Linked DNA regions of Homo sapiens: region 2 is linked to region 1. The links come from fine-mapping of genetic effects on gene expression. A gene starts in region 1. The other region holds a variant in brackets. All regions are shown on one strand. Distances are between the middles of the regions.

Region 1 (2,908 bases):
CCATGTCTGCACTGTAACCTGTGGCTCCCGAAGCGCCTAGAACTGGCTAGACCCACTTTTCTTGTCACTCCCTGAGACGGCTTCCAGTGGCTTCCAGGCACAGCTAAGTCCAAAGGCCTAGGTCTGCCAATCAAGGCACTCTGCCCTCTGCCTCTGGTGCCTCCGTGTGCTTCCTTCCCTTCTCCCCCGGGCCTGAATTCTGAAGGAATTCATTCATTCTACACTCATTTGTGGAGAGGTGACAGTGCCTTCTGCTATGAGCTGGGATACCTTTTTCACATTTTCCCATATCCAAATATGACCAATCATTGATGGCCCAGCTCAAGGGTCACCACCGATTCCCCTTTCCCTGCCCTCACCACCCACACCTTCTCATGGCACCCATGCCATTCTGCCTTGTATTACAGTTATGTGGATGAATGTCACCTCCCCTGCGTGTCTGAATCCTCTGTGTAATTCCTACTCAGCTCAACACTGCATTTTGCAGAGGAGGAAAAACAACTCCCTCGATTGCTTGGAAATAGAACATTTGCTGGTCTAAATCCTCCAGACAATGAGCTCCACGAGGGCCCGCACTGCCCGCCCTCATCGCGCACAGGGAAGCTGTTCAAGGGCCATCTGTTGAATGAATGAGTGAATTAATGGCTTCACTCCTGTACTCTTCCTTACGCGTCTTTCTCACCATATTTAGCATCCGGCTCTCTAACAACGTGAAAAAATTAAAAGTGGTAAGAAAATTGCTTCGGGTCAAAAATGTGTCATGCAAAAGCCACCGCAGAGCCGGAAGCGTGACAGCGCCGCAGAACGCCCTGGCCTCCCCGCCCTTCCCCGGGCGCCGCCCTGCCCGGGTCCGCGCTCGCGCCCAGCCCCCACCCCGCCTCCTGGGCAGTGGAGGTCCCTGGGGGCCCGGCCAGGCCGCCTTAAAACCGGCGTCCCCCGGCGTCGCGGGGTCGGGCGGGGGCAGGGAAGCCCGGCGGGGAGCCCCCCGCTTCTCTGAGCTCCTCCTTGCCGATCTCCAACGGCCGGCGCGGGCCCCACCTGCGCCCCACGCCTCGGCACCGCGCCGGCCCGGCCCAGGGGCGGGGAAGCGTCCGTGCGCCCAGAGTCCTCGAGGCCCAGCCGGGGGCCCCGCCGGCCGCCCGTGCCCGTCCCAGCCCGCACTCACCGTCGGGGCCCGGCGCTCCCGCGGCGCCGCGGGCCAGGCCGAGCAGCAGCAACAGCGGCAGCAGGCGGCGAGACGGGCCCGCATCCCAGGGCCCCCGGCCCATGCCGCCGCCGGTCCCTCCCGGCGCGCCCGCGCCTCCTCCCGGGGCCCTCAGGGTGCAGAGATAAGGCTACAGGCGCCGCGGGGAGGGGACCAGCCGGCGGCTTCCGGCGCCGCCGAGGGAAGCGGGGGGCGCTGCGGGGTCCCCGGGAGGCCGCAGAGCGCGGGTCCTTCCTCTTGTCGGGGCCTGGGCTTAGGACACGCCCGTTCCGCGTCCGTCTCTGGCTCCGCACTTGCTGCCCTCTCGCCGCTCACATTCGCAAAGGGGGACAGACACTCATCGGATAATGACACAGCTGGACGCAGAGCCCCGGAGAGTGCTGGGGAGGAAATGTTGCGGAGGATTCAAGCCACTCGAGGGCTCAGGGAGGCACCCCCGGGGAGAGGGGTGAGGGGAGCAAGGGGCGGAAATCTTCCAGGACGTGAAAGGGAGCTGGATGAGGTGACCACAGCGCAAGGCCCAGATGAGAGGTCGGAAGACGCAGACCCAGGCCACCCAGGGGCGACACACTTGACCAGGTGACACCTGGTCACCGGGAGTGAGAGAGAGTAGGGCTGTGATGGAGGGAGGGGCTGGCATCAGTCCCCGCTGCTCTGAGGACACCCGGCTTGGGACGCGCTGATGCCAGCCCCTACCTCCATCACAGCCGTACTCATCCCAAGGGAAGGAGTAAACCAAGACCCAAGGATGAGAAGGACGTTGGGGAGGAATCTAAGCGGGAGTTTGTTGTAGAAATGGGGAATGGGGACCTAGAGTGAGAGCAGAGGGTTGGAGAGGGGCGTTGAGCTGCAGAGGGAAGTTAGCCCTCCTAACCCAAGTGATGGAGGTCGCCGGGAAGCTGTCACAGTTTCAAGCAGTGAATGACTTCATCACTGACACATCTCTGTCTGTTCTGTGGAATTGGGATTGGGGTTGGGTTGGGATGTGGAAGGCAAAGAGTCCAGCCCGGAGTTGCTGCAGGAATCAGGCAATAGAAGACATGTCCTGGCCCGGTGCGGTGGCTCACGCCTGTAATCCCAACACTTTGGGAGGTCGAGGCGGGTGGATCACTTGAGGTCAGGAGCTCGATACCAGCCTGGCCAACTTGGTGAAACCCCGTCTCTACTGAAAAAAAAAAAATTAGGTGGGCACGGTGGCAGGCACCTGTAATCCCAGCTACTCGGAAAGCTGAGGCGAGAGAATTGCTTGAACCCAGGAGGCGGAGGTTGAAGTGAGCCGAGCTCGCACCACTGCACTCCGGACTGGGCGACAGAGTGAGACTCCATAGACAGATAGATAGATAGATAGATAGATAGATAGATAGATAGATAGATAGATAGATAGACAGACAGACAGACAGACAGACAGATAGAGATAGAGATAGATGTGTCCTGCAGCTGGGCATTGACAAATGAGTGTGAAGAGGGCAGTGTGTAAGAGTGGAATCCACTAGGTTTTATGACTAGTCGGGGAGAAGGAAATAAATAAGATCCGGTTTGAAGGCTTTGAGCTTGTGATGTCTGTGGGAGCGCAGCCGAGAGCAGGCACCCCACTACTTCACCCCATATCCTCACTTGTTTACTCTCTGCCATGAGCCTGCCGTAAATCTCACCACTTTCAAACACACCCATATAAGGGCTAAAGTTGTGGAGTCTTAACAAGTA
Region 2 (2,908 bases), 140 kb before region 1:
GATTCACAAGCTCTCCAAGCTAGATCTCCTAGGTGGGTTTCAGCTCTGCATCTAGCTCCACCCCCATCTGAGTAGCATCTCTACAGAAGCCTACAAGGGTCTGAGGCAGGGCAGCAGCAGCCTGCAGGTTGAAAGAGAGGAAGCCACAGGAGTGGCCACAGAAATGAGGGAAAGTAAAGGAACGTGGCTAACACCAGAGACGAACAGATAGAGACTCTGAGAAGTGGTCTCTGGGGGTCGAGATGGGGACCTGTCCTTTTGCCTTTGTGAAGTTTCTTCATTCTCCATCTAATCCAGAGAATTGTTTTGGAGACACCAAACTCAGACACATTCAGACCAAATAGTTGTGTATTCATTTTCCATGAGAACTCTAGTAAGAATGTTCATGAATGCAGATCACAGGAAGCCAAGTCAGATTCAGAAAGCTGATTTGTGCCCTTGGAAGCCAGCCAGAGTGGTGGTGGGGTACTTAGGCTAGAGTCTCCAAGGCTGACAGCCCCCTACATCATCTCCTCGATAGGGCTACATGCAGTGTGGACATTGACATTCTCTAGCCAGGACCTTGTCCAATGCAGGAGTTGCACTGCCCAGCCGCTGCTCTCTGACTATCCATTCCTAGGCTCCATAATGACAGCTCCCCTTTTGTGGGCACTGCCTGTGTTTAGGCAGAAGGCGGCATTGTAGAGGGCCTCACTGCTGTCCCTGACCATCATCAGCAGAGCAAAACCCATGCAAACTATCAGGGGTACTGGAGCTCATCTGTTGCACACCAATTCTGGTGTTCATCTCCGTGACATCCCAAGCCACAGTCATTATCCCAAAACAACCCAAGTTCCCTCTGATCCTTGGAACTGAGTCCCCTTTCATGTCCTTGGGTCTCCCTTGGATGGAGGGAGTCATAACTCATGGCTAAGAGCTATAGGTGCCCCTCACCTCCTCTCCCTATCTCTGCTTCTCACAGCTACTGCCAAGTTCTTGGCTTGGAAGGGTCATGGGGGCCAAGAAGGACCTTTGTACTCTCCATTACTCGGCCCTGGAGTTCTCACCACCTCTGGAAGCTTTGAATCTGGTCAATGTCTCCTTACTTGCCAAGCCCACCAAGACTCAAGATGGCCACTCCCAGGGACTAAAGCACAGAGCTAACCCTTCAGGTCCACACACTAGGTTCTCCCCCATCTGGTAGAGGTAGACTTTTGCAGACCACACTCATAAATTCTGAATCCTGCTAACCCCAAGGCTAGGGGATGGGACACAAGCCCACGGACCCAAAGAAACAGTGCCCTTTCACTCCCCCAAATCTCTGTGCCGCTCAAGTGAATGCATCTGGTCAGAGGTGAGAAAGTCAATTTACAGACCCAGCATATGACAGCTCTTGGCAGCTTTGACACCACGTGGTAGAGGGTCCAGAGGTCCCTCAGTACAAGCCTGGAAAGAGGAGCTTCAGAGAGATCTCCACTCAGAGAATATGACTTGTGTCCTCTACAGCAACAGAAGACACAGGGCCTCGTATCTGATTCCAAGGATAAGAAACCCAAGGGTCAAGAGGTGGAGGCTGCCAGACTAGTGGCAGGCAAAACAAAAAGAAGCAAGCTCCATTTCCACCAGTCAGAGGACAAAGGCTCTAACAGGTAAGAAAACTGAAGTCTGTGGCTGGAGCCAGCAGTGACGGCAGGAAAACCCTCTGTTTGGCATGCCAAAAATCTATGAGTTTCCATGCATCAAGCAGACACTCTAGGAAGTAATTGTGCTGGAAAAGCCATCTTGATATGATTTCCCAAAAAAGGCC[G/A]ACTGGCAGAGCAAAAGCACTCCTGCACTTTCAGGGGCTGGAGCTGAGATAGAGGCCAAGAGTTCAGAATAACAAAATATAAAATAGCTAGACAAGCACAACAACATATACATATGAATGACCTTGTAAGTTATAAACTAGAATACTCAGGCCAGCCTCGGTGGCTCATGCCAGTAATTCCAGCACTTTGGGAGGCGGAGACGGGAGGATCACGTGAGGTCACGAGCTCGAGACTAGCCTGGCCAACACGGTGAAACCCCCCTCTCTACTAAAAATATAAAGATTAGTCAGGTGTGGTGGCACGCATCTGTAGTCCCAGTTACTCGGGAGGATGAGGTGGGAGAATAGCTTGAAGCAGGGAGGCAGAGGTTACAGTGAGCTGAGATCATGCCACTGCACTCCAGCCTGGGCAACAGAGTGACAGAGTGAGACCTTGTCTCAAAAAAAAAAAAAAAAATTAATGGAAAAATAATGGTAACTTATTCTTACTTGGTATAAACAAAAACCTATTTTAAAGTTACAGTAGGTGGTATTGGCACAGAAATAGATCAGTAGAACAAAAGAAGAAGTTCAGAAATAGACTTCAGCATATGATTCAGTATATGATTTCAAATCACTAACAGAAAAAAACAGTCAATGAATTTTTTTTTTTTTTTTTGGAAACAGGGTCTTGCTCTGTCACCCAGCTGGAGTACAGGGCATGACCATGGCTCACTGCAGCCTCAACCTCCCCTGTTCAAGGGGTCCTCCCACTTCAGCCTCCCAAGTAGCTAGGACTACATGTGCACACCACCACGCCTGGCTAATTTTTGTATTTTTAGTAAAGACAGGGTTTCACCATGTTGGCCAGGCTGGTCTTGAACACATGGCCTCAAGTGATCCACCCACCTTGGCCTCCCAAAGGTTACAGGCGTGAGCCACTGAGCCTGGCCTCTGTTAATTCTTATTTTTTGTAAAGATTGTGTGTCGCCATGTTGCCCAGGCTAGTCTCGAACTCCTGACCTCAAGTGATCCTCCCACCTCAGCCTCCCACAGTGCTGGGATTACAGGGGTGAACCACCGCTCCTGGTCTCAATGACTATTAATAGGACAACTAGCCAACCATTTAGCAACGATTTTTAT

Evidence for each region. PIP is the estimated chance that this variant, and not a neighbour inherited with it, causes the effect.
Region 2: its variant is fine-mapped to the expression of SUSD1 in whole blood (INTERVAL, PIP 0.95).

The regions. Positions count from the first base shown.
Region 1 is chr9:112,173,968-112,176,875 of GRCh38, forward strand. SUSD1 (sushi domain containing 1) reads right to left here and starts at 1,330. Exons shown (of 17, transcript NM_022486.5): 1 at 1,166-1,330. The coding sequence starts at 1,268. It also overlaps the pseudogene RPL29P20. RefSeq lists a silencer at 789-1,448.
Region 2 is chr9:112,033,971-112,036,878 of GRCh38, forward strand. All of the region lies in intron 1 of LINC02977 (long intergenic non-protein coding RNA 2977), which reads right to left. Among named protein-coding and RNA genes, the nearest start is that of LINC02977, 5.0 kb to the right of the region's middle. RefSeq lists enhancers at 266-355, 1,926-2,025. The variant G/A (reference allele first, on the strand shown) is at 1,787.